Linked DNA regions of Homo sapiens. The protein of the gene in region 3 interacts with the protein of the main gene of each other region in a pairwise test. Each region holds a gene or a part of one and is shown on either strand. Other genes may lie near its edges.

Evidence for each region.
Region 1: the proteins of GPR42 (region 3) and SLC35E4 interact in binary tests that used the Homo sapiens proteins (3 or more experiments, as listed by UniProt).
Region 2: the proteins of GPR42 (region 3) and APOD interact in binary tests that used the Homo sapiens proteins (3 or more experiments, as listed by UniProt).
Region 4: the proteins of GPR42 (region 3) and SLC30A2 interact in binary tests that used the Homo sapiens proteins (3 or more experiments, as listed by UniProt).

What each region holds. Positions count from the first base shown.
Region 1 is NC_000022.11:30,638,774-30,645,798, forward strand, and holds part of SLC35E4 (solute carrier family 35 member E4), read left to right. Parts: intron 1-7,025. UniProt on the Homo sapiens protein: Putative transporter.
Region 2 is NC_000003.12:195,573,920-195,580,944, forward strand, and holds part of APOD (apolipoprotein D precursor), read right to left. Parts: intron 5,577-7,025; 5' UTR 5,543-5,576; coding exon 5,420-5,542; intron 53-5,419; coding exon 1-52. UniProt on the Homo sapiens protein: APOD occurs in the macromolecular complex with lecithin-cholesterol acyltransferase. It is probably involved in the transport and binding of bilin. Appears to be able to transport a variety of ligands in a number of different contexts.
Region 3 is NC_000019.10:35,366,374-35,373,487, reverse strand, and holds GPR42 (G-protein coupled receptor 42), read right to left. Parts: upstream 2,421-7,114; 5' UTR 2,370-2,420; intron 2,140-2,369; 5' UTR 2,129-2,139; coding exon 1,088-2,128; 3' UTR 526-1,087; downstream 1-525. UniProt on the Homo sapiens protein: G protein-coupled receptor that is activated by short chain fatty acids (SCFAs), such as propionate. Hence may play a role in the regulation of whole-body energy homeostasis and/or in intestinal immunity.
Region 4 is NC_000001.11:26,043,102-26,050,564, forward strand, and holds the start of SLC30A2 (proton-coupled zinc antiporter SLC30A2), read right to left. Parts: upstream 3,018-7,463; 5' UTR 2,796-3,017; coding exon 2,746-2,795; intron 2,117-2,745; coding exon 1,896-2,116; intron 1,344-1,895; coding exon 1,197-1,343; intron 451-1,196; coding exon 297-450; intron 1-296.

The DNA.
Region 1 (7,025 bases), on a different chromosome or scaffold from region 3:
TGCACTCCAGCCTGGGTAACAAGAGTGAAACTCTGTCTCAAAATTAGCCGGGCCAGGTGGCATGCACCTGTAATCCCAGCTACTGGGGAGGCTGAGGCATAAGAATTCCTTGAACCCGGGAGAAGGAGGTTGCAGTGAGCTGAGATTACACCACTGCACTCCAGCCTGGGCGACAGAATGAGACTCTGTCTCAAGAAAAAGAAAGAAGTTCAGCCCAGCGCAGTGGCTCACACCTGTAATCCCAGCACTTTGGGAGGCTGAGGTGTATTGGGGGAAATTCAGCCAGATATCGGGCGAAATTCACCCCTGATATTTCACGTAGGTTCTTTTCTGTATTACCTAAGTGTCAGCTGGTCTGAGAAATAAAGGGACAGAGTACAAAAGGGAGAAATTTTAAAGCTGGGTGTCCGGGGGAGACATCATATGTCGGCAGGTTCCGTGATGCCCCCTGAGCCATAAAACCAGCAAGTTTTGATTAGTGATTTTCAAAAGGGGAGGGAGTGTACCAATAGGATGTGGGTCACAGAGACCACGTGCTTCACAAGGTAATAGAATATCACAAGGCAAATGGAGGCAGGGCCAGATCACAGGACCATAGGACCGGGGTGAAATTAAAATTGCTAATGAAGTTTCGGGCACGCATTGTCATTGATAACATCTTATCAAGAGACAGGGTTTGAGAGCAGACAACCAGTCTGACCAAAATTTATTAGGCGGGAATTTCCTCGTCCTAATAAGCCTGGGAGCGCTATGGGAGACTGGGGCTTATTTCATCCCTACAGCTTCGACCATAAAAGATGGCCGCCCCCCAGAAGCAGCCATTTTAGAGGCCTACCCTCAGGGACGCATTCTCTTTCTCAAGGATGTCCCTTGCTGAGAAAAAGAATTCAGCAACATTTCTCCCATTTGCTTTTGAAAGAAGAGAAATATGGCTCTGTTCCACCCGGCTCACCGGCAGTCAGAGTTTAAGATTATCTCTCTTGTTCCCTGAACATTGCTGTTATCCTGTTCTTTCAAGGTGCCCAGATTTCATATTGTTCAAACACACATGCTCTACAATTTGTGCAGTTAACGCAATCATCACAGGGTCCTGAGGCGACATACAGCCTCCTCAGCTTACGAAGATGATGGGATTAAGAGATTAAAGATAGGCATAGGAAATCACAAGGGTATTGGTTGGAGAAGTGATAAGTGTCCATGAAATCTTCACAATTTATGTTCAGAGATTGCAGTAAAGACAGGCGTAAGAAATTACAAAAGTATTAATTTGGGAAACTAATAAATGTCCATGAAATCTTCACAATCCACGTTCTTCTGCAATGGCTTCAGCTGGTCCCTCCGTTTGGGGTCCCTGACTTCCCGCAACAGAGGTGGGAGGATCACGAGGTCAGGAGATCAAGACCATCCTGGCCAACGTGGTGAAACCCTGTCTACTAAAATTACAAAAATTAGCTGGGCGTGGTGGCGCCTGCCTGTAATCCCCCCTACTCGGGAACCTGAGGCAGGAGAATCACTTGAACCCAGGAGGCAGAGGTTGCAGTGAGCCGAGATCACGCCACTGCACTCCAGCCTAGGGACAGAGCTAGACTCCATCTCAAAAAAAAAAAAAAAAAGAAGAAAGAAAGAAAGAAGTTCATGATTTGCACAGAGGTCACGGGGTCCCTAATGATGTGAAGCATGGTCTATGTGACTCCAGATGCTGGCTCTGATGAAAGAGGGCAGCAGGGCTCTGGGCAGTTTAGGGCCGAGGCTCCAGGCCCAGACCCACTAGATCATTCTGCCTGAGGGCGAAGGCTGGCTTCCTGCCTTTCCTACTGAGGGGCATCTGAGTCGCAGCCTCTATCCTCTCTCTGCCTCAACCCAAGGAGACATAGGGGAGGCCAGGGTGCCCACTCAGGGTGGGGAGGCCTGGGTTCCAGCCATACCTTTGCTCATATTTGCTGGGCAACCTTGGGCATATTGGGATTTTATCTGGGCCTCAGTTTCCTCATCTGTCAGTGGAGGAGAGTTGGAGTTGATGGAGTCCAAGGGGCCTCTTGCTCTCCCTTCGCCCTGAGATCCTGTGACCCAGGCCTGGGAGAAGGAAGTGGGCACACCAAGAGTGCTGGGCTGGGATTGATGACAGCCCACAGCCAGGGAAGATTGAAGTCAGAGTTCAGCCCTGCCCTGGCGTATTCAGAGCTGACACAGAGGCCCTATCTCTATCCTCCCTGGCTCCAAGGCAGGGTCAAAACCCAGTTCTATTTTTTGCCCTCAGGTTACATGAGAGCTAGAGGCTGAGCACAGGCATGAGCTCTGGGCATGAGTCTGCACTGGGAAACCTGACCTGTGGGCACCCCTGTGCAGGCCACAGGGCTGTGAAGGTCCTAACCTCAAGGCCCATGCTGCCCCTGCTGAGAAAGAGTCAGTGCTTCTCACACTGGGACCCAGGCAGCCCCAGCCTGCAGGAGGGGCAATGGCCGGCCAGGCCTCAGGCACTTGGGCATGGAGTGGCATGTGCCTGGCATCGGGCTGCATCTTGACTCCTGCCAGCTCCCTCCTTCCCTCCCTCCCTAGTCTTAACTCCTGACCCCTGGGAGGTTGAGTCCTTGCTCTGGGCTCCTGCGGTATCCTCTGCTCCCCCTATCATGGTTCCAAATGCCATGTATGATCACCACCTGGTTACCTGTCTGCTGCCTGCCAGACAGATTTGGGGCAATTCTATGTTCCTGGAACCTAGCCCTGGGGCCTTGCAGAGGATACATAATTTGTAAATTATAATTTTTAAATTTTATTTTATTATTTTTTTTTTTGAGACAATCTCTCTCTGTCGCCCAGGCTGGAATGCAGCAGTGCAATCTCAGCTCATTGCAACCTCTGCCTCCTGGTTTCAAGCAATTCTTGTGCCTCAGCCTCCTGAGTAGCTGGGACTACAGGCTCATGCCACCGTCCTGGCTAATTTTTAATTTTTTTTTTTTTTTTTTTTTTTTTTTAGAAACAGGCTCACTATGTTGCCCAGGCTGGTCTCAAACCCCTGGCCTCAAGTGATCTTCCCTCCGGGCCTCCCAAAGTGCTGGAATTACAGGTGTGAGCCAACATGCCGACAGATTTACTGATGGCTCTGACAGGCGAGCTGATCTCATAGACTGGTTGGGCTGCCTGATTCAGGAGGGAGTTTAGGGGGCTAGAGGCCCCACTAACAGAGATAGGAGCCCTGCAGAGATGGGGAGGAACAGACTTGAGCCAGGGCCTGAGATAGGCTTTTTTTGCTTGTTTGTTTGTTTGTTTATGAGAGGGTCTTGCTCTGTCATCCAGGCTGGAGTGCAGTGGCTCACTGCGGCCTCAATTTCCCAGGCTCGGGCAATCCTCCCACCTCAGCCTCCCGAGTAGCTAGGACTATAGGCGTGCCTCCATGCCCAGCTAATTTTTGTATTTTTTGTAGAAATGGGGTTTCATCATGTTGCCCAGGCTGGTCTCCAACTCCTAGACTCAAGTGATTTACCCACCTCGGCCTAAAGTGCTGGGATTACGGGCATGAGCCACCACACCCAGCCTGAGATAGGTTTTGAACAAAAGGTTTCTACTGCAGGAGGCTCCAGGAGAGGCACCAGGGCCAGATTCAGACGTGAGTGTACGTGGCTGATGCCAGCTCCATTCCTGAGAGCAGAGTTTGTGGGAGCAGAGGGCAAGTATCCAGAAAGAAGGCTGGGCATGGTGGCTCACGCCTGTAATCCCAGCACTTTGGGAAGCCAAGGCAGGCAGCTCACTTGAGGTCAGGAGTTCGAGACCAGCCTGGCCAGCATGGTGAATCCCCGTCTCTACTAAAAATACAAAAAAAATTAGCTGGGCATGCTGGTGCATGCCTGTCATCCCAGCTACTCGGGAGGCTGAGGTAGGAGAATCTCTTGAACCAGGGAGGCGGAGGTTGCAGTGAGCCGAGATATCACACCATTGCACTCTAGCCTGGGCAACATCTCAAAAAAAAAAAAAAAAAAGGCCAGGCACGGTGGTTCACACCTGTAATCCCAGCACTTTGGGAGGCCAAGGTGGGTGGATCATGAGGTCAGGAGATTGAGACCATCCTGGCTAACACAGTGAAACCCCGTCTCTACTAAAAAATACAAAAAAATAGCCAGGTGTGGTGGTGGGCACCTGTAGTCCCAGCTAGTCGGGAGGCTGAGGCAGGAGAATGGCGTGAACCCGGGAGGCGGAGCTTGCAGTGAGCCCAGATAGCGCTACTACACTCCAGCCTGGGCGACAGAGTGAGACTCCGTCTCAAAAAAAAAAAAAAAAAAGTATCCAGAAAGAGGAGAGCCCAGGCAGCTGTTGGCAGGGCCAGCGACTTCCCTCCTTCTTGGGCCAGTTGTAGGCCCAGGGAGCCTGCACAAGGAGAGGGGTTATGCCATCCTCCTACCCACAGAAAGGGTGGGAAGTGGGGCGCCAGCCTGCTGAGCTTGCTCTCAGCTGGACTCCCCCGCCCGTCCGCATCACAGAGCAGGCGGACTCAACCCCTCTGAGCTCTCAGGCTGATGGGGGAGATGCACTCAGATATAGAGATCATGATGGCAGAAAAGAAGTTCTAGAGTCAAAGTGGTCACACGTGTTGGGGAGCGGTTGCTTCTTCCTGGGGAGCGCTGAGAAGGCTATCTAGGGGAAGAGACATGCAATGATGATGACAATAATGTAACCATGAGAGCAAACATTTGTTGGGGCCTCCCTAGGTGCCCACACCATGCCCAGCTCTTCATACTGAAGGAGGAGGAAAGGGTGATCTGGGAATGGGAAACAGGCCGTGCCAGGGCACAGGGTGTCAGCCAGCAGGAGCAGGGTGTGGGGATCATGCCAGCTGCCGGGGTGAGCCGGCATCAAGGACATCACACAGGGCATCAGGCCCTGTGTTCAGCACCTCACATGTGAGGGGGCTGTTGCTACCCGAGCCACACGACTTAAGGAGACTGAGGCGTGGAGAGAGGGAGACAGTATCACACAGCCCGTGAAAGAGCAAAAGGGCCAAGCCAATAGCAAGCAGACAGGGTTTAGAGAAGGGTCAGCTGTTGTCTGCATGTGGCAGAAACTTGGGCATGTTCCAATAGAAGGAGAGGTGGCAATGAGGCAGGACAAACAGGCTGACATTTTGGGGTCCCCAGGTAGAAGCCAGTCACCGCCTCTGACAGCGAATGGCTGCCCTTTCCCTGGGCTGCAGGGAGGGGAGGTGGAGGATTGGGTGGGATGTACAATAGGTGTGAGGAGATGGGTGGGAAGTTTAGGACCTTCCTGCCTGGCTGCCTTGCAGAGGGTGAAATTTACCAAAGGTGAAGTTCACCTGAAAACCCAACCGCCTTCTTGTGATGGGACGTTTAATGTGCAAGCCACAGGTAGCTCATAACACTGTTAACTTTCGAGCCTGCGAGCAGGAGGCATTCTGATTATCTGTTCATTTCTAGAAACGCTTGAGCCAGAGGGACTGTTTGTTGCCTAGAGAACAAAGCTAAAACATCGGAATGAAATTGAGAGAGAAATAAAATTTCCTATTCTAAGCATAGCCTATGAGTAAGCATCTCTGTGGCTTTTTGGAAAGTGTGTGTCAGAAAATGCATAGAGGCTCACAGAGGCCTGGGAGGGGACCTGTGTCGACTACTCATCTCTCTCCACTAACTTGGCAAAGGCCCCATGCCATCATTGCCCTCATGCAAATAATGTCATTTCAGCCAGGCGCAATGGCTCACACCTGTAATCCCAGCACTTTGGGAGGCCAAGCTGAGCAGATTGCTTGAGTCTAGGAGTTTGAGACCAGCCTGGGTGAACCAGATGACGAAACCCCATCTCTACAAAAAATACAAAAATTTTCAGGGGTGATGGTGCATGCCTGTAGCCCCAGCTACTTGGGAGGCTGAGAAGGGAGGATCGCTTGAGCTCGGAAGGCAGTAAACTGACATCGTACCACTACACTCCAGCCTGGGCAAGAGAACCAGACCCTGTCTCAAATAATAATAATAATGTCATTTCGCCTGGGCAAGAGAACCAGACCCTGTCTCAAATAATAATAATAATGTCATTTCGCCTGGGCACCCCTTTGTGAATTGGCTGGTGGTGGCATGTGTACACGTAGGTACACACAGATACACAGTCACACATAGGCAAAGCAGCAAGATCCCCTCCTGCCTTACAAAGTGAAAAGGTTTCCTCTTAGTCCTGGATTCATCTTGACAAGCCACAGTATTAGCAGGAAAAAAAAAAGATGCTGATTATCAGTTATAAACAGTGAGTGAGAGCCAAGATCCCACAATGACCTTTTGTCCCCTTGTCACTCCAGTGGTCATAAGTGAATGAGGCAATGAATGGGTCACACTTTTGACCCAATTTATTATTTTCTTTTATAAACTCTTCTTTTTTAATGCAAAGGCCCCCATGTGGCTAGTAAGTGGCAGAGCTGGGACCCTCTGCTGGCCTGCCCTTTCATGGTGGCTGGAACTGCAGTGTGGGAGTGATAGGGGCTGAGGCGGGAAAGGTGGTTGGGGCCAGTTGATGCAGAGTCTTCGAAGCTGGGTGAAGAACCCTGGGCTGGGTGCACTGGCTCAACGCCTGTAATCCCAGCACTTTGGGAGGCCGAGGTGGGAGGATCACCTGAGGTCAGGAGTTCGAGACCAGCCTGGCCAACATGGCGAAACCCCGTCTCTACTAAAAATACAAAAATTAGCCAGTTGTGGTGGCGCATGCCTGTGATCCCAGCTACTTGGGAGACTGAGGCAGGAGAATCACTTGAACCTGGGAGGCAGAAGTTGCAGCAAGCCGAGATCATTCCACTGCATTCCAGCCTGGGCAACAGAGCAAGACTCTGTCTCCAAAAAAAAAAAAAAAAAAAAAAAGAACCTAGGACCTTCAGGGCCAGGGCAGCCCCTGAAGATTTATTTTTATTTTTTAGAGACAGGGTCTTGCTCTGGTCATTGAGGTGGAGTGTAGTAGCATCATCATAGCTCACTGTAGCCTTCCTCTGGGCTCAAGTGATCCTCCTGCCTCAGCCTCTCAAAGTGCTGGGATTACAGGCA
Region 2 (7,025 bases), on a different chromosome or scaffold from region 3:
CATTCTCAAAGGTTGTTGGGATCTTCTCAATTTCGTACCATCTTCCGAGATACTGCAGAGACAACAAGCAGAGCAAAACCCTGTGGTTCTCTGGGGACCTGCAACTTCTTCCCCATTGTCGTGCAGACGCAGAGCCCTGTCCTGGGGAAGCCAGACAAAATGGGCCTCATTGTTCCCAGTGGCAACTGGGCAAGAGATTGATTGCAATGAGAATCTGTGACTAGGATGGGATGTGCGGGCAGGGGGTGAATGCTGAGTAAAGGGCTCTTCTCAGGGCCCACTTCAGCCAAAATCGCTGTGACATTCTAGACTCTGTAAAAAAAGGGGATGATGGGAAATACCTTTCATCTGAAACAGTGCACAATTCTACAAGTCATCTTTGAATCCTGTGCAAAGTCAGATGTGTTCGCTGTGGGGAGCTAGGACTCCAGAGCGCACGGAACTTTCCTCATCTGACCCTGAGGAGGGATTTAGTCATCAAGGCTTTGGAGAGGTGGTGGGGATTTGAAAGGTCTGTATCATGCTTTCTCTAGGGGCCTGCGCTCAGTCCAGACTTCAGGTGTATACAGTTAGCTTTAAAGGAAGCTGCCACTGTGTGGGGAAGGTCGAGGGAACCAGGCCCTCCTAGGCTGCCTGGCACGCGTTGCAGGGAGACCATACCAGTTTACAACCTCTGCGGAGGGCAGTTTGGCAATATCTAGCAAAGCTAAAAATACATATTATACTCTTTGGCCCAGCAATTTCACTTCTGGGAATGCATCCTCCTGATATAAGAAATGATGTATGTGTAAAGTTATTCATTACAGTACCGTTTGTAATAATACAAGATAGGAAACAGCCTATGTGAGCATTAGTAGGGGGCTGGGTGAGTAAACGATGGCATATCCAGACAATGGAATTTTACTTCCTCTTTCAAAAGAGTGGTATGCAGTGATTTCTAATATTTAATGACAAAAGAGTCAGGTACAAAATAGTGTATCTATTAAGGCACCTTTTGTGTAAAAATGGAGAAAATGTTTATTACGTTGGTTTTCTGTTGCTGCTATAATAAATTAGCACAAGCTTCAAACAGCACAGATTTATTATCTTGCAGTTGTGTAAGTCAGAAGTCTGACAGGTCTCACTGGGCTGAACTCAAAGTGTTGGCTGTGTTTCCCTCTGGGAGCTCTAGGGGAGGATCAGTTTCCTTGCCTTTTCCAAGTTCTACAGGCCGCCTACATTCCTTGGCTTGAGGCTTCCTCTATTTTCAAAGCCAGCAAAAGGAAGTCAGATCCTTCTCACATTGCATCTCTCTGACTCTTATGCCATCATCAAACCTCTCTCTCTTATCACAGCTGGGAAAGATTCTCTGCTTTTAAGGATTTATGTGATTAGATTGAGTTCCCCTGGATAATCAAGGCTAATCTGGCCATCTCAAGGCTCATAACTTCGATCACATTTGCAAAAGCCCTTTTCCCATGCAAAGTAACATTCACAAGGTTAGGGCGTGGACACCTTTGGAAGCCACTCTTCTGCTTACCACAGTTATTAAGTATTTGCTTGTATATGTATATATTATCTGTAAAATTACATAATACATGGTTTTTACTAGTTGCTACTGGGGAGGGAAACTGAGGTACAGAGGTGGGAGGGAAACTTTATGTGGTGTATTCTTTTACACCTTTAGGATTTTGAACAATGTAAATATATTTATCTAGTTAAAATACTAATTAGAATTTTGTTTTTTTGAGATGGAGTCTCACTATGTCACCAGAGTGGAGTGCAGTAGTGCAATCTGGGCTCACTGCAACCTCTGCCTCCCGGGTGCAAGTGATTCTCCTGCTTCAGCCTCCCGAGTAGCTGGGATTACAGGCACGTGCCACCATGCCCGGCTAATTTTTGTATTTTTACTGGAGAAGGGGTTTCACCATGTTGGCCAGGATGGTCTCAATCTCCTGACCTAGTGATCCCCCTGCCTCGGCCTCCCAAAGTGCTGGGATTACAGGCGTGAGCCACCGCGCCTGGCCTATTCTAGAAATTTAAAAACAAAAAGAGATGCGCTCACCTTCAGAGTCAGAACTTGAAAAGAGAGGATGCTGCACACAGGTGAGTATTGCTTCAGCCACGGCTTTCCGCTCAAATGTATGCCACATTCATGACCATAAAGTTCTACTCACTTATTAAAGCACAGCTTTCAATTAAAGCCACTGAACTTAACATTCATTTAAAGTACCAAAGAATAAGGTTAGAGGTTAACTGGTTTCATAGACATTCTCGGAAGAAGCTCCATTTTCTATGGTGCATTCAAATCTGTTCTATTTCTGTTAAAGTGAGTTTAGTGCCCCATAGTAAAAACCAAGGAAGCATGATTTTTCAGAAAAGAGGAAACTCAGAGCTTCCTTATGATCTCATATTATTTTTGCAAAGGCTTCTTAATCTTTTCAGATCTCTGGTCAGTATTGAAAAATAATCCTAGAAAAGAAGAGGTAAAACTCTATCTGTTTGCAGATGACATATAAAATATCCTAAGAAATCTAAAACAGAGACAAAACCAAAAACTATTGGATCTAATGAGTTAAGCAAGGTTACAAGATACAAGATTAATATTCAAAAATCAAATATATTTCTCAGCCAGACGCAGTGGCTCATGCCTGTAATCCCAGGACTTTGGGAGGCCGAGGCGGGTGGATCACTTGAGGTCAGGAGTTCAAGACCAGCATAGCCAACATGGCGAGGCCCCATCTCTATAAAAAATTTAAAAATTAGCCGGGCATGGTGGCACGCAACTGTAATACCAGCTACTCGGGAGGCTGAGGCAGGATAATCTCTTGAACCTGGGAGGCAGAGGTTGCAGTGAGCTGAGATGGTGCCACTACACTCCAGCCTGGGTGACAGAGCAAGACTCTGTCACACACACACAAAAATATATACATATATAAACATATTTCTCTACTTGCAATGAACAATTTGCAGATGAAATTAAGAAAATTCCATTTAAAAGGCCGGGCACGGTGGCTTGCTCACACCTGTAATCCTAGCACTATGGGAGGCCGAGGCGGATGGATTGCCTGAGCTCAGGAGTTCGAGACCAGCCTGGGCAACATGGTGAAACCCCGTCTTTACTAAAATACAAAAAAACTTTGCTGGGTGTGGTGGCGTGTACCTGTAGTCCCAGCTACTTGGGAGGCTGAGGCAGGAGAATTGCTTGAACCCGGGAGGCGGAGGTTGCAGTGAGCCAAGATGGTGATGCTGCACTCCACCCTGGGTGACAAAGTGAGACTCCGTCTCAAAAAAAAAAAGAAAAGAAAAGAAAAAGAAGAAAATTCCATTTACAATAACATCAAAAGAATAAAATATTTGGGAATAAATTTAACCAAAGAAACATAAAACTTATACTCTGAAAACTACAAAGTATTGTTGAAAGAAATTAAAGATGACCTAATTCAATGGAAAGATACACTATGTTGACAAGTTAGAAGACTTAATATTGTTAAGATGGCAGTACTCCCCAAATTGATCTTCAGATTTAATGCAATCTGTATCAAATTCCAATTGGATTATTTGCAGAAATTGACACGCTGATCCTAAAATTCATATAAAAATGTAAGGGACACGGAATAACCAGAAGAACAAAGTTGGAGGACACATGTGTTCTTATTTCAAAGCTTACCTCAAGGCTTTGATTACTACAAAGCTATAGTAATCAACACTGTGTGGTACTGGCATAAGTATAGACATATAGATCAATAGAACTGAGAGTGCAAAAATAAACTCTCACATATACAGTCAATTGATTTCCTATAACGATTTCCTACAAGAATATTATTTGGCAATAAAAGGGGATATAGTATTGATACATGCTACAACGTGGATGAACCTTGAAAACGTTCAGTAAACCAGTCACAAAAGACCACATATAGTATGATTTCATTTTTATCAAATATGCAGAATAGGCAAATTCGGAGACAGAAAGTAGATTAGTGGTTGCCTGGGGCTGGAAGGGTTGGAGGGGAGATGGAGACTCCGTGAATGGGTATGAGGTTCCTTTTCGGAACAGTGAAATGTTCTAAATCGATGGTGGTGGTGATGGTTGCGTAACTCTGTGATGATACTAACAACAATGGAAAGTGAAAAGCTACTTTAAACAAGTGAATTACGTGCTATACAAATTATATCTCAATAAAGCTGCTATTTTTTAAATCCTGCTTTAATTCTCAAAGGACTTCTATAAATACAGATCAGTTATCATTTCCAAAGTGCTTTGGGATTTGTATCCAAAAGCGAAAGTATAACTCAGATTCCTTGGATGTTTTCTTTAAAGCCTCTCTGTGGTCTATCAGAGTTACCTGAATAAAGGGATCAGCCTGTAAGTGGAGCAAGTCAGTGTAGACGTTAGTGTACTCTATGGCCTCTTCCTACCACACCTGTATCTCCTGATCCCATGGATGGTGCTCCTTCTCCCACCCAGCGTCCCCTCAGAGGTCCCAACACTCATTCACCTTGAGGTGCGAGTGTATGATAACAACTTCGATGTTACTGTTGCCATTCTTAAAAGAGATCCAAACCTTCTCCTAAGGAGAGGAAGTCTTAAGGGTGAGATTCCAGGCTTGAGTAGCAACAGTGGGAGCCTGTGAGTCCTGTCCTCCAATAGCTGCCTCTTTCTGCCGCCCTCTTCCTTCCCCTCCCGCTAAACCCCAGGAAGAAAGACCATCTATGGAGGAGCTCGTTGTATTGATGACATTTTGGTGCAGATACCAAGAAAGCCCCCTGGAGAATTTTGGGCTTTCCTGAGCCCTGTTTGAGTGACCTTTGGGTGCCCTGCACTGCTGAGAAGCCTGGTTTTGAATCCTACTTGCATTTACCAGCTGCGTGAGCTGGGGAGGGAGATTCCGATGCTGCATCTGTAGAACAAGGATAATAGCTCTGTAGCAGCTACTATGGTTCCCTGGTCCTGTTCCCCTCAGCCCACCTCTGAGTTCACCGCAGCCACGGTAGGCAATTCCCAGACACTGCCAGCCTCCCACCTGAGACCCTGTGTCTCTCCTCTGCCAGGGGGCTCAGCTAGAGCCACGGATGCTCCCATGACCTGCTGGCAGCAGCTGTGGGACAATCGGAGGGGCATGCTCCACGTGTCCTCAGAGGGTGCCCAGTGTGACTGACCCTGACGGCCCAGGGCGACAGCTCAGGAACGCACCCTTTATTGCTTCTGTGCTGTCTCCGACTCACCTTCCCACCTGCTCTCGTGCGTCCCGGGATCATCCCAAACCTCTCTGCCTGCAGTCTTTATCTCAGCAGATGTCTGCTTTGGGGAAACCCCAAATAAGATAAATACTTGTCCCAAGGTGTGCAGTGGAAATTAAAGCAGCATAATTACATTGAACCTTGTAGAACGCTTATTCACAGCGGAGGCAGCAAAACAAACGGGAGGTTCGCCTTTTACCTTATTCACGTCAAAATTCTCCTGCACCGGAGGATTGGGGCACTTCCCAAGATGAAATGCTTGTCCCTCTGCCGCACCGAAGAGGCCAGCCAGTGCGGAAAGCAGCAGCAGCAGCATCACCATCTTGGGGCTGGGTGGCTGGAGAAGGGACCTGGAGCTGCGGGAACGCAAAGCAGCTGGGGTTGTCATTCTGAGCCTTCTAAGGCCACACAATCATGAAGTAAGAGTGCTGTGCCCATGGTCCCCTCTGTGGGCGGTCCCTCCTCTTCTCTCCCCAGCCCATGTGAACCCTCATCCTGCAGGGGAACACCTGCCTGTCCTTGTTGCTGTGAGGCCTTCCTCAGAGCCTCTGCACCTCCACGAGGGCGCTCTCTGCCTGGTATTCTGGTTTGTTGGATTGATTTTCACCCCTGTCCCACCTAATTATGCATCTCCCAGGATGGGCACTGTGTCTAGTTCTCCTCAGAATCACCCACGGACCTCAAAGTGTCGGCTCAGTAGATACTTGTCAAATGAACAGAAACAGCGTGGAGAGGGCTATGTAAAGTGGGGGATTAAAGCCTCCAAGTGAACCACGAAAGACACGAAACCAAACCAAATGTTGCCCAACACTTAGTGTCCTCTGAGATTCTTCAGGGAGATGCCTCTCTGACACCATCCCTCCCCCTGCCCTCGTCTTGCTGGCTGTTCTACCAGCCCAAGAGTGCGCTTGGAAACCTTAACAGGGAGCGGCCTGCTGGGGGCTCCAGGGTCACCCCAGCCAGGTTCAAATTGTGACTCTGCCCCATACTAAGTATAACTGTGTCCAATTTATGCCTTAGCTTCTTTGTCTAGTAAATGGGAATAATTATCATTCCTAGCTCATGAATTTTTGTGAGAATTAAATGAGATAATATACAGAGAGTACTTAGAGGAGTGTCTGATACAGAGTAAATGCTCAATAAATGCTAGTTATTGTTATTATCAAAAGCAGAAAGATGATGGTATTTCCCAGGTTTCTTCTTTCTTTTCTTTTCTTCTTTCTTTCTTCTTTTTTTTTTTTTGACATTCTGTTGAGGGTTTTTGTTTTGTTTTGTTTTGTTTTGAGATGGAGTCTCACTCTGTCACCCAGGCTGGAGTGCAGTGGCACAATCTCGGCTCACTGCAACCTCTGTCTCCCGGGTTCAAGTGATTCTCCTGCCTCAGACTCCTGAGTAGCTGGGATTACAGGTGTCCACCACAACTCCCGGCTAATTTTGGTATTTTTAGTAGAGACAGGGTTTCACCATGTTGGCCATGCTGGTCTCAAACTCCTGACCTCAGGGGATCCACCCGCCTTGGCCTCCCAAAGTGCTGGGATTACAGGCCTGAGCCACCGCACCCGGCCTGTTGAGGGTATTTTTCATAGATGAAGTTCATTAAATCAGAGAAGGACTGTCAGCTGATGTGTAACTGTGCAACAAGCATTTCAACCCCAAGAGTCCTTTGGCAGCAGAAGCTGGCTTTGAAGCGGGGCAGCAAGGCAGGGAGACAGAGGCTGCAGGACTGTGTGCAGGTTCTGGGCATTGGAAGCTCCCCTGTTTCCTTCACTGACTCGCTGTCAATTTGCTCCTTTCCTTGTGACTCC
Region 3 (7,114 bases):
TCTTTACTGGGGAGAGGATGCACTCACACAGATACTCACTGTGCTTTGCATTTACTTCTGTTCCTTATCACAGCCTGTTTGCATTTGTCCTGCTCAGACAGCCTCATCTGACTGGGCCAGGTGACCACAGGTGACACACAGATGGAGAACAGCAGAGTGGCTTAGGGGCATGGGTGTCAGAGTCAACTGACACCAGCTTCTGGTCCCACTTCAATCGCCCACCAGCTATGGGATCTCGGGTAGGAGATGTCACCTCTCTGGGCCACTCCTTCATCTGAAACTGGGGATAATGCTGGTACCTCTCACAGGGCTATTGAGAGATAGAAGGAGATGATGTGTCAGGCCAAGTCCTTTAGACAGGGCAGCTGTTATTTTCATCCCTGCAAGCCAGATCCTCTCCCAGCATCCAGGCATCCTGGTGTTTGGCCCTTTTCCTCCAGAGTCTGGTGTTTTCTCCTTCCATCCACCAGTCCCACCCGGCCCAAGCACACCACCAGAACAAAACAGGAGAAGAAGGAAACACTGTTCTCTTTTGCTTGCTTCCACATTTATTTGGGTAATTTTTCTTCTGTCATTGTTCATAAATGTCTCTGATGATCCACATTTATTGAGCAATGGGAACTTTCTGGAAAAGGCACTGTGGGAGCAGAATGCGGCCTCATCCCTGGAGCCCTGTCTCCCCCGCTCCTGACTCGCTGGCTGGGAGCAGCTCTGAGGATGGGGTTCTCCCCTCTCCTGCCCCTGCCACTCACTGGGCAGCCCCCTCAGACCTGGGCACTGCTCTTAGCTCCTCTGCCACCCTCAAGAAAACACAGGAGCTGCCTGCTGCTATGAGGACCTCATTGTTCTCCAGAGCAGCCTCTCACCCTGACCCCTTCCCAGAGCCCAATCCATAGTGTGTGGGTGGATGGGGATGGAGGTGAGATCGAGAGCTGGGCTTTAGCGCGCATACCCTTAGGGAGGCTAGATGTCTACTCTGCCCCCAAGCCCCATCGGGCCCCAGCTCGCCACTCCAAGTCCCTCCTGGCGTGAGCGAGGAAGCGCCCTGAGGATGACACGCCAGCTACACCCTCCTCCCCCGGAGGACCTAGTTTTCAGCACAGGCCACCTGGCCACCAGTTCCACAGCCCTGTGAGTGTTCACTGGTCTTTCTTTCAGCTGGTCGGTCCGCTCTCTGCTCCTCCCCTCCCTTCTGCTCCTTCAGCTCCATGCTGCTCTCCTGCTGCCACTGGCCCCAGAGCCCACACAACCTCCTCAGCAGCTCATGAAAGTCGGCTTGGAACCCGGAGGAGGAGAAGTAGTAGACAAAGGGGTCGACACAGGAGTTCAGGGTGCTGAGAAGCGTCACGTAGATCCTCCACACCGGGCTTTCACCGCAGATATAGCCCACGACATGGGACACGTTGTAGGGCCCAAAGCAGACAAGGAAGTTGAGCAGCGTGGCCGCCACCAGCCCCGCCACCCTCCTCTGCCGGCGGTGGCTGCCCCCTCTGCCGAGGATCCACACCAGGCGGCTGTAGCAGTAGCTGGTGATGATCAGCGGGACCACAAAGAGGACCACAGCCATCTCCAGCCGCACGGGCAGGAGGATGGCTAGCTGGTCCTTCCAGAACTCCAGGTAGCAGGTCCCATTGGTGCCCTGGCTGTGGGAGATGTCCCCTGAGAATTCTATGACGTAGACCACGCTGCAGTGAGCAGAGGCCAACAGCCAGCAGGCCACACTCACCAGACCTGCCTGCCCCAGCCTCGGCCGGGTCTTGTACCACAGTGGGTGGGCCACACTCAGGAAGCGTTCAATGCTCACAGCTGCCAGGAAGAGGGCGGTGAGATAGATGGTGGTGAAGAAGATGAATCCAGAGAGTGGGCAGAGGATGAAGGGCAGGGGCCAGTGCATGCCATTGGCTGCCTCCACCATGCGGAAAGGCAGGAACAGCAGCAGGAGCAGGTCCGAGGCGGTCAGGTTGAGCAGGAGCACGTCCACGGCCACCGGGCGGCACCGCAGCTTGCCCACGAAGACCACCAGGGCCAGCAGGTTGAGGGGGAGCCCCACCAGGAAAGTGAGAAGGTACACCGAGAAGACGAACCAGTGATTGCCGGAGAAGTAGGACTGGTCGGGGCCTGTATCCATGGTGGTGGCCACTGGTGAGAGAGAGTAACATGGAGTTGGTAGTGGGGGCCCTAACGGCCTCTGGCCAGCAGCATCTCCCCTAAAAGGGCACGAGGTCACTACGCCCACCCCTCTTGTCTCTGGGTGCCTTCCAGGCGGGGTCAGCCTGCCTGTCTTCCTGAGCATGCCCTGTCCCCTGTCCCTTCCCCAGCAGAGAAGCACCAAGGTGCTCCTCCACCCAGCCCCTCGGGCCCAGGCTCACCTGCTTCTTTGAGACCCCAAATGCTCTGCCGCACAGCACCTTGCTGTCTCTCCAGACCTAGTGCAGTTGGCTATTTATCCGGCAGAACTGATAAAGACCTGGCCGTGCCCATGACATCACTCACTGTTGAGCAGTGGCACAAAGATGCCTTGAGCTCCGTTGCCAGGGCTGGTCAGTATGCAAAAAGGGGAACAAATTCCACAACTGCGTGCCTCCCTCCTTGCGCAGCCTCAGCTGGGATGCTCCAAACAGGCCCCAGCTGACGTCTTCTTCCCCTCCCCTCTCTTCCACTTGAATTTTGTCTGATTCTCTAGAATGGCACTTATCCAGTTTGCCTTTTAAGGGCACAAAGCATGAGCCAGTGACAGACTGGACTCCGTGAGGTCTGTTCCTTCCTGACTTTGTGATGTGGGGGAAGAGATGTGTCTCTTCTTCCTCCCCTACAGAACAGGGATTGTCATAGTACCTGTACCATATTTCAAAGCATGAACACATGCAGATTAAAACATATATACAGGTAGATTAAAATGTTAATAATATAGGTCAATTGCTTTTTGAAAATATTTATTTTAGATTCGGGAGCACATGTGCAGGTTTGTTACATGGGTATATTGCATAATACTGAGGTTTGGGCTTCTATTGAACCCATTACCAAAATTGTGAACATAGTACCCAATAGGCAGTTTTCCCACCCTTGTCCTCCGCCCTCCCTCCCCCACTTTGGAGTCCCCACTGTCTATGGTTTCCATCTTTAATGTTTGCGTGTACCCATTGTTTACCTCCCACTTAAAAGTGAGAACATACAGCATTTGATTTTCTGTTTCTGTGTTAATTCACTTAGGATCATTCACTTAGGCCTCCAGCTGCATTTATGTTGCAGCAAAGGACATGATTTCATTCTTTTTTATAGCTGCATAGTATTTCGTGATGTGTATGTACCATTTTTTCTTTATCTAGTCCACCATTGATGGGCACCTAAGTTGATTCCATCACTTTGCCATTGTGAATAGTGCTGTGACAAACATACACATGCAGGTGTCTTTTTGGTAGAATGATTCCATTTTATGAAAAATGACATTGATAATTTGGTAGGAATTGGGTGGAATCTGTAGATTGCTTTGAGCAGTATGGACATTTTAATGATATTGATTCTTCTAATCCATGAACATGGAATGTTTTTCATTTATTTGTGTTTTTTAGTTCTCCTTGTAGAGATCTTTCACTTTCACTTCCTTGGTTAGATGTATTCCTAGGTATTTTATTTTTGTGTGTGGCTATTGTAATTGGGATTCTGTTCTTTATTTGGCTCACAGCTTGACAATTGTTGGTATATAGTAATGCTACTGATTTTTATACACTGATTTTGCATCCTGAAACTGCCAGTCATTTATCAGGTCTAGGAGTATTTTGGAGGAATCTGTAGGGTTTTCTAGGTATAGAATCATATCATCAGTGAACAGAGATAATTTGACTTCCCCTTTCTATTTGGATGCCTTTTATTCCTTTTTCTTGCCTGATTGCTCTGGCTAGGACTTCCACTACTATGTTGAATAGGAGTAGTGGGAGTAGGCATCCCTGTCTTTTTCCATTTCTTAGGGGGAATGCTTCCAACGTTTGCCCATTCAGTATGATGTTGGCTGTGAGTTTGTCCTGGATGGCTCTTATTATTTTGAGGTGTGTTCCTTCGATGTTTAGTTTTTTGAGGGTTTTTATCATGAAGGGATGTTGGATTTTATTATATGTTTTTTTCTGCATCTATTGAGATGATCATATAATTTTTGTTTTTAATTTTATGTGGTGAGTCACATTTATTGATTTGCATATATTGAAACATCTTTGCATCCCAGGAATAAAGCCCACTTGATCATGCTGAATTATGATTTTGTCATGCTGCTGGATTTGGTTTGCTAGTATTTTATTGAGGATTTTTGGATCTATGTTCATCGGGCTATTGGCCTACAGTTTTCTTTTTTCACTGTGTCCTGCCAGATTACGATATCAGAATCAGACTGTTTTTGTAGAATGAGTAGGGAATCTCTCCTCCTCAATTTTCTGGTAAAGTTTCAGTAGGATTGGTACCATCTCTTCTTTGCAGGTCTGGTAGAGTTTGGCTGTGAATCCATCTGGTCAAGGGCTTTTTAAAGGTGGTAGATATTTTATTACTGATTCAATTTTGTAACTCATTATTGGTCTGCTCAGAGTTTCAATTTCTTTCTGGTTCAATCTTGGTTGTATGTTTCCAGAAATTTATTTGTTTCCTCTAGATTTTCTGATTCATGTGAATATAGATGTTCATCGCAGTCTCTGAGGATCTTTTGTATTTCTGTGGAATTAGTTGTAATCTTGTCTGTGTTATTTCTGATTGTGCTTTTTTGGAGGTTTTTTTTTTTCCTTTGTTAATCTAGCTTGCAGCCTATAAATCTTGTTTATTCTTTCAAAGAACCAATTTTTCATTTCATTGATCCTTTGAATGGCTTATTTGTCACAATTTCGTTTAGCTCTACTCTGATTTTAGTTATTTCTTTTCTTCTGCTAGCTTTGGATTTAGTTTGCTCTTGTTTTTCTAGTTCCTTCAGGTGTAATGTTAGGTTATTAATTTGAGATCTTTCTAACTTCTTGATGTAGGCATTTAGTGATATAAAATTTCCTCTTAAAACTGCTTTTGCTGTATCCCAGAGGTTTTGGTATGTTGTGCCTCTATTTTCAGTTGTTTCAAAGAAGTTTTTGACTTCTGCCTTAATTTTTTGACTTCTTCCTTAATGACTTACCCCAAAGTCATTCAGGAAATAGTTGTTTAGTTTCCATGTATTTGTGTGATTTTGAGAATTCTATTTTTATTCCACTGTGGTCTGAGAAGAAGGTTGGTATAATTTTCATTTCTTTAAATTTATGGAGATTTGCTTCATGACTAAGCATTGGGTCAATCTTAGAGTATCTTCTGTGTGCAGATGAGAAGAACGTATATTTTGTGGTTGTTGGGTAGAGTATTCTGTAGATGTCTATTAGGTCCATTTGATCATGTGTCCAATTTAAGTCCAGAATTTCTTTGTTAGTTTTCTGCCTCAATGATCTGTCTAATGCTGTCAATGGGCTGTTGAAGAACCCCACTATTATTGTGTGGCTGTCCATCTCTTTTCTTAGGTATCGTAGTAATTGTTTTATAAATCTAGGTACTCCAGCGTTGGGTGTTTATATATATAGGATGTTAAATCTTCTTGTTTAATCGAACCCTTTATCATTAGGAAGTGCCCTTATTTGTGCTTTTTTACTGTTGTTGGTTTAAAGTCTGTTTTATCTCATACAACAATAGCAACCCTTTGTTTTCCATTTGCATGAGAGATCTTTCTCCAACCCTTTGAGGGTTTGGGTATCATTATATGTGAGATGGGTCTCTTTAAGACAGCAGAAGGTTGGGTCTCATATTTTTATCCAATTTTCCACACTATGTCTTTTAAGTGGAGTGTATAGGCCATTTACATTCAAGGTTAATATGTGAGGTTTTGTCCCTGTTGTGATTTATCTTCGTGTTGTTAGTTAATTACTTTGTAGTCTTGGTTGGGTAGTTGCTTTATAGGGTCTGTGGGCTTTGTACTTATGTGTGCTTTTGTGGTAGCAAGTATCATTCTTTTGTTTTCATGCTTACAGCTTCTTTGAGCATTTCTTGTTGGACCAGTCTGGTGGTGATGAATTCTCTTACCATTTGATTGTCTAGGAAAGATTTTATTTCTCCTTTGTGACACTTAGTTTGGTAGGATATGAAATTCTTGGCTGGCATTTTTTCTTTAAGAAGCCTAGAAGGCTGGGCGTGGTGGCTCACACCTGTAATCCCAGTACTTTGGGAGGCTGAGGTGGGTGGATCACAAGGTCAGGAGTTTGAGACCAGCCTGGCCAATATGGTGAAACCCCGTCTCTACTAAAAATACAAAAAAATTAGCCGGGCATGGTGGCACATGCCTGTAATCCCAGCTACTTGGGAGGCTGAGGCAGGAGAATTGCATGAACCCGGGAGGCAGAGTTTGCCATGAGCCAAGATCGCACCACTGCACTCCAGCCTGGGCAACAGAGTAAGACTCCATCAAAAAAAAGAAGCCAAAAATAGGCACCCAATCTCTTCTAAATTGTAAGACTTCTGCTAAGAAATCCACTGTTATTCTGAGTGGACTTCCTTTATAGGTAATTTGGCTCTTTTTTCTAGCTTCCTTAAAGATATTTTTCTTTCATGCAGTCTCATGACTATGTGCCTTGGGGATGGTCATTTTGTATAGTACCTCTCAGGCAGTCCCTGAATTTCTTATATCTGCATGTTGACCTCTTTAGCAAGATTAGGGACATTTTCCTGAATTATACGTTAAAATGCATTTTCCAAGTTGCTTATTTTTTCTTCTTCTCTGTCAGGAATGCCAGTGGGTCATAGTTTGGTCATTTCCCATAATCCTATACTTCTCAAAGCCTTTGTTCATTTCTTAAAATTATTTTTCTTTATTTTTGTGTGACTAGGTTAATTTAAAAAATTCATTCTGCCTCTGAAATTCTTCTACTTGGTCTAGTCTATTGTTGAGGTGTCCAACAGTATTTTGAAATTCCTGTAGTAAATTTTTCAATTCCAGAAGTTCTGCTTGATTCTTTTTGTGTTTTGGTTCTTTCTCTCTATATATAGTTTTTTTCCCCCCCTATATATATATCTTTCACATCCTGGCTCATTTTTACGGCTTCTTAGTATTGCATTTCAACTTTCTCTTGGGTCT
Region 4 (7,463 bases), on a different chromosome or scaffold from region 3:
CAACTGGCCTCTTCCCGCCCCACTTCAGGTATGAAGCCACCAAGGCTAGTCCCTGACATGTATCAGGGAGTGGGTAGAGTGGATGAAGACTCCGATTTACAGCTCCCAGTGTTCTTGGCCTAGGCCTAAGGTAGGACCCAGGTGTTCCAGGTGCCAGAGCTCAGACCATTAGGGAAGTTCTGTCCCTGTAGCGTATGCTGGAAAGTGGCACAGTCTCTTTCCGCAAAGCAGACATAGGTGTGGGTGTGAGAGGCGGGAGGAGGAGGGGAGACGAGGGAAACTGGGGCCCCACTCACATGATGTTCACAGCCACAGCGCAGCCCGACGTGATCAGCATGGTCCCCCCGTCAATTTCATAGTCCCCAGAGATCAGCCGCTCCACAGCCAGGTACACCAGTACCCCCGTCACGACCCAGATGGACAGTACAGAGACCAGGGCTCCCAAGATCTCTGAGGAAGAACCCAACCCCAACACCCACCTTGGCATGGGCCTGGAGCTAAGGAGTCTTCCCCCTTCCTTCAGGATCCTCCCCACCCACCTCCCACACAAAGTCAGGGCCTGGGTCCCACTGGGCTCTGCTGAAGGTATGGCCGGTATGGCTGCCCCTTACCCCACCCCTCATATATCTAGGAATGTAAGAGCTAGAAGGAACTAATAAGTCATCATCTGAGTCCACCTTTTTGGTTGTACATGTAAAGAAGCTGACTTATTAAAGTATGTGCCTTTTGTTCAGCTAGTAAACTGAGGCTTCTGGGGAAGACAGGCTGGGCCATCTCCCACAAAGAGGAAGGTGACGATGCAGTCCAGGGTGAACGGAAGAGAGGTTAAAGCCTATATCTTCCAGCAGCCTTTGCTGGCCTTCCCCTCCCCCCAGAGCTGATCCACAGAGTTATGTGCAGTGTTAATGCCATTGTCATTTGTTCTTGAAGCTTGGCTACTGCACTTCTTAGGAAGGTCAACTTTGCTTCCCTGCAGACTGAGAGCTCCTGGATGACTGGGACCAGGGCTCCCCCATCAGACTAGGATTTCCCAGAGGACAGAGGCCATGGTTGACATCCTCTTCCCCCATCCAGATCACCCTCCTGGCCTCACTCAGGGGAGGAAGGGGGGATCCACCCATTACAGCCACCTAAGAACCCCTGTTCTAACCCACCCTCTCTCTCAACCCCATCTCCAGCCAAACCGCGATCCTCACCAGCTCTCTGCCAGCCAAAGTTCATGGTCTTGGTGGCTGGCCGGGAGGACATCCAGAGGGAGAAGAGGCTGATGAGCATGCTGGCAAAGTCAGTGAGCAGGTGTGCTGCGTCAGTCATGACAGCCAAGCTGTGTGCCAGGTACCCACCTGCAGGGTGGAGGGTCCTTATCAGCTCCCCCAGAGAGCTGGCTCCCAAGACTGTGTGTGCAGCAGGGAGACCACAGGCTCTGGAAGAGGACATTCTGGGCTCAAGATCTCTCTACCCATGAGCTGTACCACCGTGACAAGTGACCTACTCTCTCTGAGCCTCAACTTCCACTCTCTGTGAAATGGGCCACCAATATCTACTTAGAGGGTGAATGTGCACATCAAGTTCAAATAGGGACTGGAAAACATAGCAGATACTCAGTAAATGCTCTTCCCTTCTAGGAATTCAGGCCTTCCCTTAGCTACGAGTTGTGCGTGATCTTTGGCAAGTTACTTCACCTGAACATGCCTCAGTTTCATCATCTGTAAAGTAAGGAGAATAACGTCACCCATGTGAGAACACAGGTTGTTGTTAGACCTGCATCAGATAATGTGTATATAAAGGCTTACTGTAGTGTGTGTTCAGTAATTGGGGCTTTTAGTGTCAGTATTGCTGGGAACATCCAGTCTATCCATGCACCAACTTCATTTAATTAGCCCAAAAGTGCTTACCAACGACTTCTCCGATCATGAACAACAGGCAGATGGCAGAGGCTACATACAGCTGGCGCTGGGCCTTCCCCTTCTTGGGGTCACAGTGACTGTCAGGACCCTTCTGAGCATGGCAGTGATGGTTGCTCTGGGCAGCCAGCTCAATGGCCTGCAAGTCCAGGCCAGGTCGGGGCAGAGGAATCCAGCCAGCCCCTTCCTGCCACAGAGATCCCGTGTATGACCTGGCCAGAGGGGAAGAGAGGGAACGCTCAGCTCTGAGATGAGGTAAGGAGGGCCGACTCTAGTCCCATTTCTCTGTGAGGCCTTGTGTCCACTGGGAAAAATAGCTAAGGACGCTCCGAGCTCGACAAACCAGAGGTGAGAAGCCTGTATTCAGACGGGGATGATAGGGGAATGGGAGTCCTGGGGCCCGGGGCCCTTCAGAGGCCAGAGGAGGTGAAGACCCTGGGAACCGGCCAAGGGGCGTGCTGTCCAGTGGAGCGCGGGGAAGGAACAGAGCGCAGGCTCTGGGAGAACAGCAGGCCCCCTCCAGCGCACTTGGGACACAGGGCCTCCCCGGGGCGGGGCTGCCTGGGGCAAAGTGCTGGGCGGGGCGGGACTCCAGGCATGGGAACCGCCAATCCCCCGGCCCCAGGCCCCCCGCGGGCAGGGGTCAGAATCTGGGCTGCGCCCCAAGGGAGAGACGGTCCTTGGGCCACAGCCCATTATCTTCGTTCCCTCACCTCACCCCACCCCTCCTGCATGGTCCCAGCTCAAGCCGCAGCCAAAACCAACCACTGCTAGGATGGCAAATGCGGAGGTGCGTCGGCTGCCGCCAAAATTCCCGCCCGTCCCCAGGCTCTCGCCTTACCGGATTGCCGGCCTGGCGTCCAACAGATGCTGCTTCTCCTTGGCCTCCATGCAGTCCCGCGCCGAGTCCCGGCAGCCGCGCAGCCGCCCCGCCGAGTGCGCCCTGAAAGTTGCGCGCGGGACTCCGGGTGGCGCTCACCCACCTGCCCCGAGGGCCCCGCGAGGTGCGCTCACTCCGGCCCGGCTCCTGCGGCCCCTGAGCTCCCCCGGCTCCCGCTGCGGCTGCAGCTCCGGCTCTGGCTCCGCGTGCCAAGCGCTCCCGTGTCTCGGGTCAGCCGCTGCGCCCCGCGGCCGCCGGCTTTATCCGGCCCTCGCCAACCCGTGTGAAGCTGCCGTCGGCGCGTCGTGTGCAAAAGCCCGCGGGGAAGGGGGGGCGGTCGCCGGCTGCAAAAGGCCCGGCTGTGGCCCCGCACACCTGTGCCTGCGCCCATGGGGCCCGCGGAGCCCACCTGCCGGCCGCGAGAAGTTTGCCAGCCTTCGCCCGGCGCGGCGCCGGGTGTTGCTGAGTGAGGACGGGGTGACGCCTGCGCCCCCTCTCCCGCGCGGGGTGCGCCGCCTCGCCGCCGAAAAGTTCTCGACTTTAGTTTGTAGAAATCCGCTTTGGTGGTCCCGACGGCAGGAATGTGGCTCCTTGCCTCGGAAGAGGGTCTCCAGAGGCTACTGGGGCCGCGTCTGCCCCCTCCGACTGGCGGCTGCCCTGGGCTTGATCATGTTCCCCTCTCAGGCCGGAGACCCCCCGAGGTCGGCTTGCGTTCCTGTCCTCCTGCTAGGAGGGTCCTGGGGTGGGGTGGGCTGCGCCGCCCTCAGGCTGGGGCAGTGTCTCTCCCTAGGACCGGCTGGGACTGATCGACCCATCCTCGCCACTGAAGCAGCGCCAGCTCCTCCTCTCCTGCGCGCAGGAGAATCTGGAGTGGCCGGCTTTGTCTCCACCCGCACAGAGAACAGTGTCATCGGCAGTCACCATCGGAGCAGAGACGACCACTGCCACTGCTGCCACCCCTTCTCCCCTCCCCCGCAGCGGCTCCTGGGAGCCCCAGGAAGCCTGACAAGCAAGCCTGGGAGATGCAGGCCGGAGGTGCCACCGTGTTGGTACCGCTGGGAGAAGCCCTGTCCTTCCTGGCCAGCTTGGTGCCCCACCCACTTGAAGCAGCCTCCTTCCCTGGCGGTTCTTGGGGATTGGGGAGCCTGTGGCCCCCACGCTGGCCTCTGACAGGTGCCCTCTGTGTAGAAAGAAGCTGCTGGAGACCTCCCTGTCTGGTCAATTCGTCTCCCCAGCACCCTTTGTCGCTAGGACCATAGGCTTGGTGGGTATGGCCTTTCACAGAGCCAAGAGTCAGAGGTGCAGGCCTCTTGCCCACACCACTGGGGACAGGAAGGGGCTCTTTCAGTCTCTCATCTTGTAGGAGACGGGGTGCCAGGAGTGAGGATGTGAGGTGCACCCGCTCTGCTTGGGTCCTCACTGAGTGCCTCTCTGCTTCTCTGGACTCTGGTTTTCTTCTGGAAAACCTCAGACACCCTGGTTTTCTCCAGGTCTGTCTACTCTGAGCACCAGCAGGCTCAGCATTACCTGGAGAAGGTGTTACAACGCAGGTTACAGGTCCCTGCATCAGACCAACCGAACCAGAATCTCTGGGTGTGGAGCCTGAATATTTCCAGGATTCAGTAGGTCTGGGGCAGGGCCTGGGAATCTGTATTTATAAAATTCTCTGGTGCTATTGTGGCATCATTGTTCATTTTTATGTATAGTGGTTTTTTTGTTTGTTTGTTTTTGAGACAGAGTTTCATTTCTGTCTCTGTCGCCCAGGCTCGACTGCAATCTCAGCTCACTGCAATCTCTGCTTCCCGGATTCAAGTGATTCTCCTGCCTCAGCTTCCTGAGTAGCTGGGATTACAGGTGCCCACGACCATGCCAAGCTAATTTTTGTATTTTTAGTACAGACAGGGTTTCACCATGTTGGCCAGGCTGGTCCTGAGGTTATGATTTTTTTCAAAGAACACCTTTATCTAAAGTATTTAGGGATAAAATGTCATCTGGGTTTTGCCTTAAAATAATCCCAGTGGGGAGAGTACGGTACTGGTATAGAAGAAATAAATATGTCACCAGCTGTTGAAACTGAGTGATGGGTAAATGGGGTACACTATAACTATTCCCTCTACTTTTCAGTATTTAAAAAATGTTGGCTGGGTGCGGCGGCTCACGCCTATAATCCCAGCACTTTGGGAGGCTGAGGCAGGCGGATCACCTGAGGTCAAGAGTTCGAGACCAGCCTGGTCAACATGGCAAAACCTCGTCTCTACTAAAAATAAGAAAATTAGCCAGGCATGGTGGCAGGCGCCTGTAATCCCAGCTACTCAGAATTCTGAGGCAGGAGAATCACTTGAACCCGGGAGGTAGAGGTTGCAGTGAGCCGAGATCATGCCATTGCACTCCAGCGTGGGCAATCAAGAGTGAAACTCTGTCTAAAAAAAAAAAAAAAAAAAGTTTCAGAATTAAAGACTTGGGGAAAAATAAACCTTTCCTGGCAATTCTGATGTAGCAGCCCATGGAGCTGTATTCAAGATTCATTGAAAGAACCCCCTTGAAGCCAGCTGTCCTCTCTTGCAGCATGATTTTAAAGGAAGCATGTTGATCAAGAACCCTTCATACCATCTTAAGGGTTCTAGTTTGCAAGTACAGGAAGAGCCCTTCCTATGGCAAAGGAAAGATCCCCTTAGTTGCAATTAACAGGTATCTTCCTGGAATTTAATCTTTAACTGATTACCCAAAGTCTCAACTGCTCTCTCTTCTCTTCCATAAGTGACAAGATACGGGGCTGAAATGCTTGCTGCTTACATGATCAGTAGCCTGGAGAAGTAACAGAACATACACACGTTATAATACTGATTCTTGTGATTTCAAGGTGATGAAAACCTCTCTCTTTCTGGCCTCAAATTTCTCCTTCTGGACTCAAATCCCTTCAGTTTTCTATGGGAGGATACTTTAGGAGACCAAACCATAAAGAAAAACAAGTATGTGATTGTCAAAAAAACAAAAAAATTGACCGCTCCTCTTTCCGCTGCCCCAATCAGAAAGAGGAGCTGTGATGTGGTAGAGGGGCACATGGAGGGCTTCTGAGGGCTGGCAATGTTCTTTTTTTTTTTTCACCTGAGTGGTAGTAACATAAGGTTTCATTTTACAATAGGTTATTAAACTCTACGATGAGTTTTGTGCACTTTTAAGGGTGTGTGTGTGTGTATTACACCGTGTTTTAAAAACTAAAACAAAATGCTTCAGAACTTGAGAAAGGACTGGAAATGAGAGCAAAATCTGATTCTTTGAAATTCAAAGTTAGGAACTGAGTTAGCCTTAGAAAACCTACCAAACTCCCAGAAGTGAAAATGGGCAGAGGTTGTGAGGGTTTTTGAGCACTGTCCTAAAGCAAGTTCCACATAACTCTAGTTCCGGAGGATGTCATATGAATAAGTTGGGAAATTCAGTCCACACACACAAAATGAAAGACTTAGGGTCAGGCAGCATTCCAAGCACCATGAACTTGATGGTCCTCATCTAAAGTTAATTCGCTTTCTTTACGGTGGGACGACTCGGACCCCTTAATTTGCTACTGTGATCTGAATGTCTAAAAGGGGGAACAGGCTCTGCAATGCTCCTCAAAGTTGTAAGTCTCTGGTGTATCAGCCCCGGTGAATGCGCTGCCTCGGATTCGCTCAGCCTTGCCTCTCTCCAGGCCCTTGGCTTCTTGCTCATGGAGATCCTGGATGCTACTGGGCCACAGTCATGAATTCATCCCCTACTGCCGGTGGCTGACTTGGCCTTTCCTGGCGTGAGTCTGGGCACCAGCCTGGCCCCATTGTGTTCACTGAGGTGGAGACAGCAGCTGCCCCACCCTTGTCCAACCCAACTGGACCATGGAGGCCCTGGCACCTCCCACCATCTCCAGACTCAGCTGAAGTACCACCCAATGGGGCAGGTGACCTTGCTGCCCCTGCACCTGCACCACCTGAAGTCAAGGTGGAATGAACAGTATGGGAGGCGGGAGACAGGAAGGAGCCAGCAGACACATTTCTTTTTTTTTTTCTTCTCTAGATGAAGGACTTTGAATCATGTTCTGTTCTTTATGGCCTGCTGGAAACATCTCACATGACTAAGCAGCCAGCCCAGTCTTTGGTGAAGCTGTGGCCAGCTCAGCCACGTGACACCTTGTACTTGCTTCCCTCCTTGCCTGCCTCGCTTCCATTTTCCTTCCCTCTGTTGGCCTTGGGAGTGTGCCTCATAGGGTCTCAGAAAACAATACCCCGAAATGAAGGCCTCCCTCGGAAGCAAACATTTCTCTCTGACCTTCTCCTGCCCTCCTGTCTCTGGTCCCTTATTCTCCCCCAAGGCTAGCTATAAAAACTACAATCCCTCTTCACCAAAAGCCTGCCCTAAAACCTAAAAATATTACTCTAACTTTCCTCTTTCTTTCTGTGTAAAATTGGCCATAGGAAATTATTTGACCTTTGTCTGATTGTAGGTCAGAAGACCCCCATCCAGAGAGAGTCCTGCGCCATATGAGGAAGGAAGGAATGCTGCGCAGAGAGGCCGAAAAGAATCTTGACAGACAGGCCTCGCTGGGTTCCCCACTCAGTCTATCAGCATTAGATCAGGCTCTTTTGTCCAACCGTATTTCTACACGGCCATCCATACTTTGTTGAACTGAAGCCTAAAAATGGACAGTTTCT